Homo sapiens: one gene and its partner. The protein of the gene in region 1 interacts with the protein of each later gene in a pairwise test. Each region holds a gene or a part of one and is shown on either strand. Other genes may lie near its edges.

Region 1 (7,107 bases):
CCTGGCCCTTGCACGGTGAATACCACACACCAAAAGCTCAAGTGTTGTGAGTAAGGCCCTCTGGTGTGGTCAGCTGGCAGGACGTGCTGCACCCATTGCCTGTGTTCTGGAAACCCTCTACACTGGAGGAGCAAGCCTCCTTCCAGCCTTTCCTCTGCTGATGGTGAATTCTGAGTCTGTGGTTTGGTAAATTGCAGAGCAGAGAGGTTTTACGGGATGTGCGTGTTAGCCAGAGCTAGCCGATGAGAGGCCTGGGGCCCACGCAGGAGGAGCTCTGCTGGCTCCAGAGTGCTGGGAACACACTGCAAAGGTTCTCTCAGGACATTCTGCAAAGGGTTTGCTCATCCCCACGGGGAGGGGGAGCTGCCTGAACACGAAGGGTCCTGTGCTTTCGGTCAGTTCATGAAGGCACGCAAGTAGCTTCCATCATGGGGATGGCACTCAGCCCTGGCTTCCTTCTTCTCTGCCAGGCCCCTGCTTGGGGTGGGGTTGAGAAGGGCAGGCAGCTGCTACTAAGGTCAGGCTCCCTGGCATGAAGCTAGGCTCCTTTCCTGGCTTTCTGAGCTGTGCCTGGGGAGACCCTAGGTAAACTGGCTTTGGCCTCTGACCGCTTGTCTTGAAAATGGTCCTGATGATGCTGGATGCAGAATGCAGATTCCTTCGTTTGAAAGTTTTTCAGTAAAGATTTGAATTCAGGTCCACCGGGTTCTTTGTGCTCACAGGCAGGTATAGGTATATATCAATTCATGTGGTAGAGAAAAGCTCGTTTATCTAAAACAAACAAGAAATTGTATCTATTTGGATTTGGGAGGTATTGCACTTTCACAGTTGTTTTATTTCCTGATTGTTTATTTCAGACAAATACCAATCATGAATGTTCTGATCCTCTGCAGGACTCTTTGGGGAATGCAAATAATAGCCAGTTTAGCAGTTACCATCGATGGTGAAACATACTTAACACTCGTGTTTTCGTGTGATTCCTGCAGGTCATTGAATGTACCCTAATGTGGGGTAGGTTTTTGGATTCTGTTTTACAGATGAATTAACTGCAACTTGGAGCAATTCACCAACTTGCTTAGGGTCTCGCAGCTGGCACAGGGCAGAGCTAGGGCAATGCAGGTCAGGTTAGCTCCAAAGGAGGATGTGGATATAAGGTGGGGCCCTTCTCTTCAATTAGAATCCGGGCAGGAAGGCCAGGCTCAGCCCTGTTCCATGGTGACAGAGCAGTACAGGGTTGTCTTTAGGACTGCCTCACTGTAGAGACATCTACCATGTGCCCTGCAGGTGAGTTCATGGTGGGCAACGCAGGCGGGTCACTGTGAGGCAGGAGGAGTAGAGCAACTTCAGGCTGGTATCTGGTCCCCAGTAATGCTTAGGGTAATAAATTAAGGGTTGACCTTGTGGACATAATATATTCTTCCTCTGTTTAGATCATCCCAGATTTTATTCTTGGTCCTGGGAGCTACATGCTTAGGAATTGGCCCCAAACTCATTCATTTCTGTGCCCTTCTTTTTTTTTTTTTTTCTCAGCCCTTAGATTGTGACTCCAGCCCCACAGGAATGAGAATGTGCAGCCACAGCCTGCAAGGGTCTTTTTCAGGGCCAGTTCCATTATGGAATGAGTATGGTGTTGGGCAGATCAGTGCTTGAATCCTACCTGTGGCACTTCCTAGTTGTGCAACCTTGGGCTGTCACTCTGAGCCTCAGTCTCCTCACCTGTAACTTCACAGGGCTCTTGGGAAGTTGGCCTGAGATAATTTGGGGTAGTGTCTACCCAGTGCCTGACCTCACCATGGACATGCACCATATACTAGTTGCCATCTGCTGTTCCTGATCACCAAGGCACTGCAGGTGATTTAGGACCCAATCGGTCAATCTGAGAGAAAAGGAAAGACTGAGGCAAGAAGGACGGCCCAGCTTTTCACAGTCTGATGGGGAAGTGGGTTACACGCCCCATGGAAAACACCCAGCCTCCAAGAGGAACAGATAAACACAGAGCAGCTGTTCAGACCTGGAGGGGTTCCTGGAGCTGAGCATTGGGATCTGGTGGTGGCTTTCTGGTAAGCTGGGAAGAAACAGAGGTTAGGAGAGAAGGAAAGAGGTTGCTCTGGGTAAGGGCAAGGTCAAATAGGATCCTAGCCCCAAGGTCAGCACCACACATGGGTTAACACTCTTGCCTGCTCTCTCTGTCCCTCTGTCTCTCTTACACATGCACAAGCATGGGAACGGTTTCTTCTCTGGGGAGGGAAGTGATCGAGGGGTGATTCACGGGTCTGACAAGGCTCCCTGCTCATGGAACAACCAACCACACCCTTCAAGGCTGTTGGAACAGGGAGCACAGCCAGCCATTTATCGCAACCCTGTGTTGAGCTGAGTGAGGGCTTTTGGGGGGCAAACCAGGGTAGAAATTACCATGTGTGGTGGCAGGCAGAGGGGAAGGGAAGAGAAGGGAAAAATAAACCTATTTGATGTCAGAGGAGACCGATTCCAGCCCAGAAATACAAGCCCCAGCTGCTGCATTTTCCAAAGAGATATTCCGGGGCCAGCATGAGTTAACTGACCGTGGAGGCTATGAATTAGGGAAGTGTTGTTAGGACTTCTGACTTTGGGTTTGCACAGCAGTTCCCTGTAAATTGCCTTCTAATTGCCTCAGCCTGAGTCACTGACCAGACTATTTCTTGGCCAGAAAAAGTCTAATGGGCAACTGTGTTCTCTTTTACCTCTTAATTAAACAAAATGAAACAAATAATAGAGTTATACACATGGTAGTCCCACTTACTCCTCTCGAGTTCTGAGAATCCAGGAAAGGGATAGTAGATTAGGATAGGGACCCAGGGGACAGGAAGGACAAGGGGTGTGTGTGGGAAATGAGGTGGAGATTCTGGCTTTGGAAATAGGTTCTGAGTGAGGGCCAGAGGTGTTCTCTGCCATGACAATTGCCAAAAATAATGGAAGCGCCCAATAGAGTGATCAGGGCTTCCAGAGGCGGATTCCCAGAGCAGCGTGCTACTTCCTGCCTGGCCCGGGCTTCTGCTGCCTGTAGTGCAGCCAGTCACAGGTGGGCAGGTGAATGGAAGGTCAGGAGCCTAGCTGTGAAGGGGATGGGGGTCACATGAGGATCCCTCTTGTGCCTCTGGGTAACCCCCAGGCAAGTCACCATATCAGCCGCAGAGACTGAGCCCCTGCTGTGTGCATGGTGCCGGTCAGAGTCCAGCAAGGCTGTCCAGACCCCATAAGAAGGGGGAGAACTAACATACAAGCACCTACTATGTGCCAGGCAATGCAGAAGATGCCTTTAGAGGCGATTTTACTTGAACCTCATAACAACCCCATGCGGTTAGGTAGGTGTTTTTATTCCCATTTTATAGATGGGGAAATTGAAGCTCGGAGGGTTCGTATCATTCTACTCAGAGTAATTCTGTGGCAGGGCTGGGATTCTCACCCTGGTCTCTGACACCCACATCTGTGAGTGCCACTTCTTCCCCATCAGAGCTGGCTTGGTGAGAGAGAAAATAACCAGTGAGTCCAGGCAGCACCACCTGGGGATGAGGGGTGCACCTGGGAGGCTGTGTTGTCCCAGAGCACCTGTGTGCCGTATCCCTTGGCTGAGCATTGGGATATCCTGGCCCCACCACTCGCTGCCGTGGGATACAGTGCAAGTTACTTATGTCTCTGAGCCTCAGTTTCCTCATCAGTAAAAAAAAAAAAAAAAAAAAAAAAAAAAAGAATATATGGGGAAAGTTGGACCTAGCTCTTAGGGTTATGATGAAGATGAAATGAGTTTGTAATTGTAAAGAGCTTAGACCGGTACCTGGCGCCTTATGGAGCTCAGCATAAGTATTTGCTTTCACAATCACTAAGTCCTGAAGCTGTTCAGAGGAGGGAGAGCACTCTGTGAACTGGAGTTTCCAGGGAAGACCGACTGGAGAAGGCAGCTTCATGATGGACCTTGAGGTGTAATTAGGATTTGGCTGGGAAAGAGTAGGATTTAGATGGGAAAACTGGGGAAGGGCATTCCAAGAAAGAGAAAAGCAAAGGTGCTGGAGGTGGAACGTGCAAGGAAAAGCTGGGCAAAGCCGAGGGTGGATGAGGGAGAGAAGGATGACAGGAAAGCTCAGGGCCAGCTCTGAGAGGCTCCGATGGCAGCAGAGGGAATTCAGTTTATTCTGTAGACACCTTGGAACCTTCCTTTTCTCCCAAGGGCTTGGCAGGGAGAGGGAGCTAAATAGTCACTTTGAGGTCCTCCCGGTGGGCTCCAGCGCTGTTTTTGCGACTGTGCCTGGAACAGAGCTAAGTAAGGACTGGAACCTTTTTCTAGCTCTGCCTGGGGGACTCTTTAGTTGGCCAGCTGGGTCCCACCCCTCCTGTTTACAGCTCTCACTCCTAGGGGTCTGGCTTCCCCATAAAAAGTTGATTGCACCCAGGCTCCTGGGGAGGAAGGGTTGAGGAGGAGGAGGAGGAGGAGAGGGAGCAGCAGGAAGTGAGGTGTCAGCTGCTTTGGGTCTTAACTAGCTTGGGAGGGCCTGATGCAGCAGCGTTTCAGGTGGAGTAATTTCCATCCACACTCCCCCAGTGGCAAGAGCGAGAATGCGCCCATCCTCGTAGGTTCTGGGGGCCAATACCTCACAGTCTGAGGGGAGCCCAGCATGTCTGTGTCTTCTGAACCATCTACACTAATGTTGCCTTCTACTTCAGGATCTCTCTGAACTTGTTTTAGTTGGTTTTTTTTTTTTTTGAGTTGGGGTCTCGCTCTGTCACCCAGGCTGGAGTGCAGTGGTGCGATCTCGGTTCACTGCAGCCTCCGCCTCCCGGGTTCAAGCGATTCTCGTGCCTTAGCCTCCCAAGTAGCTGGGATTACAGGCATGCACCACCACACGCAGCTAATTTTTGTATTCTTAGTAGAGGTGGGGTTTTGCCATGTTGGCCAGGCTGGTCTCGAACTCCTGACCTCAGGTGATCCACTCGCCTCAGCCTCCCAAAGTGCTGGGATTACAAGTGTGACCCGCTGCGCCTGGCCTGAACTTGTTTTAGTTTTAAATGCAGTGCTTCAGCTGGGCATGGTGGCTCATGACTGTAATCCCAGTGCTTCAAAAGGCCAAAGTGGGGAGGATCACCTGAGGCCAGGAGCTCAGACCAGCCTGGACAATGTAGCAAGACCCCATCTCTACAAAAAAATTAAAAAATAAGCCAGAATAAGCCAGGTGTGGAGGCATGCGCCTGTAGTTCCAGTTACTCAGTCGGCTGAGATGGGAGGATGGCTGGAGCCCAGGAGGTTGAGCCTGCAGTAAACCGTGATCACACCACTGCACTCCAGCCTGGGTGACAGAGTGAGACCCTGTCTCAAAAAAAAAAAAAATTCTAAAAAGCTAGGCATCGTGATGAACACCTGTAGTCTAGCTACCCGGGAGGCTGAAGTGGGAAGATCACTTGAGCCCAGGAATTGGAGGCTGCAGTGAGCTATGATTATGCCACTGCATTCCAGCCTCGGCAACAGCAAGACCCTGTCTCTAAAAACAAATAAGTAAATGCAATGCTTCAAACTACCTCTTCATTTATTTGACCTCTACCACACTCCCAGATAGTCTAGTAAACCTTATTCTTAGGGAAAATGTAACAATAAAAATAACAGCTGACCTTTCTAAATGTTTTCTATGTGCTAAGCATCTCATATGGATGTTCTCAGAACAGCCCCACGCAGCATGTAGCTCCCACCAGCATCCATACTGTACAGGTGACAGCACAAAGGCTCAGAGAGCTCAAATGAATTGCCAGATGCCACGCAGCTGATGAGCTGCATGTGGAGAGGCCTGCACTGACCCAGGTCTGCTGGCTCCAAAGCCTGCCCTGTCCCCACAGAGACCGCTTAATGACACATTACACACCCAGGATGCCTGGGCTCCATGGTTCCACCTTAGGCCTAGTTGGTTGGCTCCTCAAGCCGTGAGATCTTCCACATGTCACCTCCCCCTTCTAGAACTACATTTGCCCATCTAGAAAATGGTGCAACTGTTTCTTTTCAGGCTTGCCTTGCAGAGCGGAGGGCAGGTATAACAGCTGCTTTGGAAAGCACTGAGCCCAGAGATGATAGCTGTGTGAGGAGGTCCCTTGATCCCCCAGTCTGGGTTCTTAATTATCTAGGGCAGGGATGCTATACAAAGTGAGTTGTTCCTGACCCCAGGGAATTTTTAAACAAGGTTCACCTGCCCAGCCACCTCTCCTGAGAAGCCTCATAGACAGAGTCGACTCAGGAGTACTTAGGCTCTTAGTGAAGATCTCTTCTAGAAAACGGCCTCTGGTTTTCCTTCTTTCCAAACCAATCATTTTTTTGTGAACAGGAAAAGACAGAGTTATTCCCAGTCCCATCTCTCCCTGCTGTTACCTGAGCGGAGGAAGTGATATCTAAGTGGCTGAGTTAGCAAAGGGGAAACAGCTGTGGTTTCTGCCACTCCACTGGGCTGCTTTCTCTGTCCCTGTGCTGTCATTTCCCTTTGGCTGGCGAGGAAGCCACCCTCCCCAAGCCTGGGCGGAGGCCCATGGCTGGGTCGGGGTAGACTCTGTGTGTGTGTGTCAATGCAGCATAAATTATGCAGTGGGGCGGGTGGGACAATTTAGCCTGTTTCTGGGATCCCTGGAGCATGAACTTTAGACCTGTTGGAAACTGATCACTCTTACCTGATCTGACCACAACTTCAGGGAGTCAGGAATGGAAGTAATGCCCCATGTTGAGAATGAACTTGCAGGGTGTACCAGGTGGGGTAGGGATTGATGGAGTGTGGGCTGGTTTGCACTTTTGCCTATCACTGTGTGGTCCCTGATGGAGAACCTACGTTGTTTTCCTTTTTTGAGGCGTACTCTCACTAAAGGAGACCTTGGCACGTATTGTATCACCATCATCATCATAGAGCTGTTACAGGAAAGGGGTCCCGATCCAGACCCCCAGAGAGGGTTCTTGGATCTCCAGCAAGAAAGAATTCAGGGCAAGTCCATAGAGTAAAGTGAAGGCAAGTTTATTAAGAAAGTAAAGGAATAAAAGAATGGCTGCTCCATAGACAGAGCAGCCCCGAGGGCCACTGGTTACCCATTTTTATGGTTATTTCCTGATGATAT
Region 2 (7,000 bases), about 74 Mb from region 1:
AAAATAGTACTAACATAAAGGTAGGCAGAAGGCAGATCTAGCTTATATACAATCAGCTTCACCCAGTGATAGAAGTGACCAGGTGAATCGTCTTAAAAAGAAAAAAAAAACACACAGAAAGATTACAGACTCCAAAGTTTCAGTTGTAAGTTACATTCTCTGACATGATTAGTGACACACAATAGTTCATCCAATGTTACTAAACTCCTTCTAAAATCATCTCAAAGTCTTCAGTTAAGACTACCTTTCTTTTTAACTTTTGCTAAGTTTAATAAAGTTCTGAGACAAAGTCTGAAAGTAAGAAAGAAGTAAAGTGGATCCAATGATTTATTTCTGTAACATCCTGCTTGATATCAACATCAACCTTTGCCTTGGTAATGAAATCAACGTTTTATAGACCGAATGTTATGATAGCAGAGAAAGCATGAATTTTAAAAATAGAGAGAGATGGGTACTTGACTTGTACTTGCCTCAAGTATACATATATATATATTTTTTTTCCTTTTTTTTGAGACGGAGTCTCACTCTGTTGCCCAGGCTGGAGTGCAGCGGCGCGATCTCTGCTCACTGCAAGCTCTGCCTCCTGGGTTCACGCCATTCTCCTGCCTCAGCCTCCCGAGTAGCTGGGACTACAGGTGCCCACCACCATGCCCGATAATTTTTTGTATTTTTAGTAGAGACGAGGTTTCACCATGTTATCCAGGATGGTCTCGATCTCCTGATCTCGTGATCCACCCGCCTTGGCCTCCCAAAGTGCTGGGACTACAGGCATGAGCCACCACGCCCAGCCTCAAACATATATTTTGAAATGCGTATAAGCTTTATCAGTATGAATTCTAGGGGAAGAGAGAATTTCAGAAGATACAAAATGCAAACTGTAGGAGGATACAAAGCCTTACAAGTGTCTCCTTTGGTTAGGAACCATGCCGGGTTTTTTGGGGTCTTTTTTCAGCTTTGAGGTATAATTCACAAATGCAAATTGTATATACTCAAGGTGTGCAGCATGATGTTTTGATATAAAAGCTGAACTCACAGAAACAAAATGGAAAGGTGGTAACCAGGGGCTGGAGGTAGGAGAAATTGGAAAGACATTGGTCAAAGGATGCAAACTTGTAGTTACGAGTAAGTTCTGGAAACCTAAGGTATAGCATGGTGACTATAGTTGCTAACAATGTATTATATATTTAAAATTTGCCAAGAAGTAGATCTTAAGTTTTCTCAAGGCACACACACACGGTTATGGCCCCTACATCAGACACACATAACTATGTGAAACCATGGTAGGTATTTTACATTTTGTTATTAACCTAAGCACTTGAACAACAGATGTAGGGCTGAAGATCAAGAGAATCGCTCAGGGTACTTTAGTACCATTCCATTGGAACTTAAACGCTACGAGGGCAGGAATTTTGTTTCCCACCGCTCTTTCCCCAACACCTATACCAGTCCCTGACACACAGTAAGTGCTCAGAAAACAACTGTTGAGAATAAATGAATACCTGGCAGTGAACTAATAAACTCAAAGGGAAACGAAAGCCAAGCACATCCCATCTTGTTGTGAACACGAAGATTCTGACGGTCTCAGGCATCCCTGAGCGAGTCTGCTGTGACCACTTTGGGGTTTCACATCAGGAGAAAAAACAAATGTCCAAAAGAAGATAAAAATAAATTAGGTTAGAGAAAAGAAAATAGACATACTTAAATGAACACAAAAGAAACTATGAGAGCTTAATTTAAAGAGGTGTCAGAAACTTTCCAAAATAAAGAATCAGGCTGGGCGCGGTGGCTCAGGCCTGTAATCCTAGCACGTTGGGAAGCGGAGGCGGGTGGATCACGAGGTCAGGAGATCAAGACCATCCTGGCTAATACGGTGAAACCCCGTCTCTACTAAAAATACAAAAAGTTAGCTGGGCGTGGTGGCGGGCGCCTGTAGTTCCAGCTAGTCAGGAGGCTGAGGCAGGAGAATGGTGTGAACCCGGGAGGCGGAGCTTGCAGTGAGCCGAGATTGCGCCACTGAGCTCCAGCCTGGGAGACTGAGCGAGACTCCATCTCAAAAAAATAAAATGAAAATAAAATAAAATAAAATAAAATAAATAATAAGAATCAAAGACAAAGAATGATTATGAAGCCATCAGAGAAGGGAGAAACAGTCTGTGTATTTCAACAGAAACAAGCAAGGACAGTGAGAGGACTTTTTAAAAAAGATCTTCTTTCTCAACACATTTCTAATTTGTTCCTGCTCTCCCACCTTGAACTACTACCTTCCAGATACAAGGTGTTGCCTTTCCAAGGAAGACAGATTATTCTCGATCTCTGAAACCTTTGGATTACAGAATCCCAATACGTAAAAGGGGTCTTAAAAATCCTCTAGTCCAACCCTTGTTTGAATGAATGAGGCCACTGAGGCTCAGAGAGGTTAAGAATTTACCCAAGGTCACACAGCTGGTTATTCATGAAAATCAATGTTCCTCCTTCTTTCTCTGGCCATTGACACCTTCAATTTCCAGATAAAATCTTCCTCCTGCACCGAGAGCAGGGAAAACACTTCTTTGGACTTTTGGGGAGGTAGGTGAATGAATGAAGGAAACAAAGCATGTTGGCTGTTATGGCCCCTACATCACTTTGCTCTGCTGTGTTCTCCACGCCACGTGCCCACTGCAACTTCCTTTTGAAATATTTAAGAATAGTTGGCTGCCTGAAAGCTCTCTGATGCCTCTGGAGTGAAGACCTGATACAAATCCAAATTAATAAATTCCATCTCAAATGGGAGAATCCTGTGTTGGGTAAAGTACATCCCATGAAGCTGAGTCACCCTATTCTGAAGCACAATGACCAATTTTATCTAATCACAGAATTTTAAAATATTCAGCACTTCCAATAAAAAATGTATGAAATCATAAATCCAAATGGTTATGTGTGTGTGGCTAAAATGAACATCCGGGGGAAATTAAGACTATCAGCACAATTTAGAGAGCTAGCTGCTTCTTAACGGTACAGCCAAGCCTTTTTTTCTAACCTGGCTCAAACCTATAGAGTTATTAGCTGGTTTAGATGTCTGATGCAATATTTGCAAACAAATTGAATTAATTGCAAAATAAACAAATGTAGCTGAATTTTGCAACCAACATAGCACACAGTAAACTAAACTATCAGCTTAACTCAAACAAAAAATTCCTAAGAAAATTTATATCCAAAACCACTAAAACATTCAGATGTCATTTTCACTTTCATAACCTACCTCTTAATTCAACATATTTTAAGCTACTGAAAATCAAGTGCTTTCCCATTTGGGTTTTGGCTGGAGCGGTTTGTTTGTTTTGGAGTAACAGGTGTGCAACTGCAACATGTATATGTCTTAAATTTTTGGCTGAGATAAATTAGATATAATGTTTCAGAATGTATGAAAGAGTATTTACTTAAAATTTTGAAATATTTAAAGTATGTGAGATCTTAAAAACCTAAAAATATCAATATGGTTTTTCTATTCAATGACTGTATCTATCCATCCAAGCCTAAGTTATTTGCCAACTTTCCATGCTCAGAACGTAATTGAAAGTCCAGAAAGAAACGAGAGGCCTCTGATGAACCTAAACACAGTTCACAAATCGTAGGTGCATTATTAATAAAAAGCCCTTTGGGTCTTCGCCCAGAACCGAATTGTTCTTTTCTATTGATAGCAGATACAGAGGATACAAATTCTCACACAGCTAATTGGGAGTTAATTTCTACTTACAAACAGAAAATCAGTTCTAAAAGCCAAATGAATGCATTCCACCTGAAATGGACATGTTGAACAATTCACCTTATAAAGAGGAACACCAGGATTTTTTAAAAAATCTTAAATGGACCTTAAGAAGGAAAGCTGAGCAAGCAAAGAGACAGAAAATGATTTTTAAAATAAGGCCGCCAGGAGACCTCAAGATCACAGCAGGGTGTGGATGCTGAGTATGGAGGTCAGAGCCCCATCACCCTCACTAGACCTGAGATGGGATTCTCACGGAGAGGGGTTCCATCCCAGGGAGGCTGCGGGGACATCAAAGTAACCAGGAGGTCTTGAAAGGTGTCCAAGAGGAGAAGACAGAAGAGCTCCTGATCAGTGCTGAGGAGTGAGTGGGCAGGAAAGAAAGAAGTGATCGCTTGAGGTCAAGGGGAGCTTTATTTAGAATGGATGAAACCTGAGGATGTTTTCAACACAAGGAGAAGCCAGGAGAAGAGCAGAGTGGAAAATAAGACAAACGGGAGAGAATGGTGTAGGTAGAGAGCGGGAAGGGGTGGCATGAAAAGCCTAGAGGAACAGAGGAGCCTTGAAAGACTCCTTCTCCTCCTCGGAAGCCCCCTTCGAGTCCCGCACCCCAGCTGGTTGCTTCCATCTCAGGCACGTGGCAAAGAATTAACCTAAGGCGGCTCAAAGCAGGTCCTCAGACAGGAATTAGCATCACCTGGATCCTGTTTGTTGAATCTCTAAGTCCAGTGCAGACCTACTGAATCAGACGCTGCAGTAACAAGACTGCAGGTGATTCCTATTAAAGTTTGGGCTGCACTGGCTAAAGCAGCGGTTATGAATACAGGCACTGAAGTCAACTAGATCTGGGTTCAAATCCAGCTGGATTTGGGCACATGGTATGTGCCCAAGCTTGGGCAAGCATTTCTAACCCTCAGTTTTTTCCTCAGTAGAATGAAGACAATTGCACTAATATTTCTTGGGGGCTACTGTAAAAATTAGAGTCCGGGCGTGGTGGCTCACACCTGTAATCCCAGTGCCTTGAGAGGCCTTAATGGGAGGATAGCTTGAGGCCAGGAGCTCAAGACCAGCCTGAGCAACATAGTGAGACCCCTGCCTCTAGAATTTTTTTTTTTAATTAGCTGGGCATAGTAGTGATTGCCTATAGTCCCAGCTACTCGGGAGGCTGAGGAAGGAGGAATGCTTGAGCCCAGGAGTTCGAGGCTGCAGTGAACCATGGTCATGCCATTGCATTCCAACCTGGGTGACCAGGCAAGACTGTCTCAAAAAATAAAAATAATTAAGTGATATATTGTAGAGGTAAAGAGTGTGGCATTAAGTCTGGCACACAGTAATAATGGATGGCATGTTATTATTGTTCATCCCTTCTACTCTGACTGGTAAAATAGCTCCATTACATCCCTGTCCGAGACACTCTGGGAAAGAGGCTGCCAATGAGAGGGAATACGCTATAGGCTTCTGCATCCCACAGGACCCACCCGGAGCTCTGCACAGGGAAAGTGCCCCAAAAATATGGACTGAAATGAATGTACCCAGGGCTGTGACATGGGCAGACCAATGATCCCAAAGCAAATATGGAAACTATTTCTTTTACTATATTTACACAAAAACCAGTTAGACATAGGTTATAAACTTGTTTGGGATTAAAGGATCAACTTTCAGAAGGGGACAAGCACATTAGGAGGAAAAAGAATGCCTCTTTCAAAACCTCCTACAATAGGGAGTGTCTCTAAGAGGGACAGAGATCTCTCTGAACCAATACTAAAGAGCCCCTGAGATCAACAGTGCAAACTGCTCCTGAGATGTGTGACCCAAGTTGAAGTTGACTGTATGGGTAAAACACTTAGGTCAAATTGCACCACTAGATGAGTTTCTTCATTTTAGGCAAAGTTCCAATAATGAAGTGACTGACTTCATGCGGCACACCTTAATTTCCCGGTTGGCAAAAGCACGTGTACAGAAACCCCATATACAGAAACCCCATCGGACTTGTTACCGCAACACGAACGTTTCTGCTTGCATTGTCATAGATGAAGGAAAAAAAAGGAGAACTTATAACACAGAACACCAGCTTCTACTGTGAGTAATATAGGATGAGGGCAAAAGTACTGGATGGATCACAGCCAAATTTCGATATGAAGAACCCACAAGTCGTTACAATTCAATCCGTTCAAACAACTCACATTTCTGGATTGCCCACTGGGCTAGACCCTGGGGGTGGTAAGAGAAGTGAGACCCAAGCACCTCACTGGGTACCCTGCTGCCAAGGAAAGGGCCACCAGGACCTAGTGACTGCAGCCCTAGAGTACAGGCTGGAGTCGAGGCCCAGGAGGCCAGAGGCATGTCAGAGGAAGCTTCTGGCACATCTCCTTTGATATTGCTTCCCTGGCAGGCAAGAGAAGACAACATTTTGGGGAGACTTGCCAACAGAACTCCAGGGGCATGAAAGACCCTGAAGGGGAGGCTACAGAGCCCAGGCTTTTGCATGTAAGCAGTGAGGAACGATGAGGGTTTGGCCCTGGCCGAGTGCAAGATGAGATCTTTGTTTAGGAAGGTCATTCTGTGGCTAGACCAGACGGAGGAGAAACCGAGGGCCAAGGGATCCATTAAGGGCAAAGCAGTAGCCCAGGTAAGAGATGGCGAGGCGAGGCCAGGCGCGGTGGCTCATGCCTGTAATCCCAGCACTTTGGGAGGCCGAGGTGGGCAGATCATGAGGTCAGGATTTCGAGACCAGCCTGACCAACATGGTGAAACCCCATCTTTACTAAATATACAAGAATTAGCCGGGCGTGGTGGCGGACACCTGTAATCCCAGCACTTTGGGAGGCCGAGGTGGGCAGATCATGAGGTCAGGATTTCGAGACCAGCCTGACCAACATGGTGAAACCCCATCTTTACTAAATATACAAGAATTAGCCGGGCGTGGTGGCGGACACCTGTAATCCCAGCTACTCAGGAGGCTGTGGCAGGAGAATCCCTTGAACCCGGGAGGCAGGGATTGCAGTGAGCCGAGATTGTGCCATTGCACTCCAGCTTGGCTGACAGAGTGAGACTCCATCTCAAAAAAATAAAAAATAAAAAAGATGGCGAGGCTTAAGAGGAGGTGGTGGGGCAGAGGCCTCGGGGACCTAAAGGGAGAGGAGTCAAGGGTGACCAGAAGATTCCTAGTTGAGTCACAAATCAATGAAGCCCAGAACTGCTGGAAAGTTCTAGACCTACGGATACTCCCAGTCACAGCAAGGCACCCTGAGATCAGCG

What was found. Proteins that work in one complex are often made in the same cells at the same time.
Region 2: the proteins of SH3PXD2A (region 1) and SVIL interact in a two-hybrid assay, tested with the Homo sapiens proteins (one study listed by BioGRID).

The regions. Positions count from the first base shown.
Region 1 is NC_000010.11:103,845,567-103,852,673, reverse strand, and holds part of SH3PXD2A (SH3 and PX domain-containing protein 2A), read left to right. Parts: intron 1-7,107. UniProt on the Homo sapiens protein: Adapter protein involved in invadopodia and podosome formation, extracellular matrix degradation and invasiveness of some cancer cells. Binds matrix metalloproteinases (ADAMs), NADPH oxidases (NOXs) and phosphoinositides.
Region 2 is NC_000010.11:29,624,972-29,631,971, forward strand, and holds part of SVIL (supervillin), read right to left. Parts: intron 1-7,000.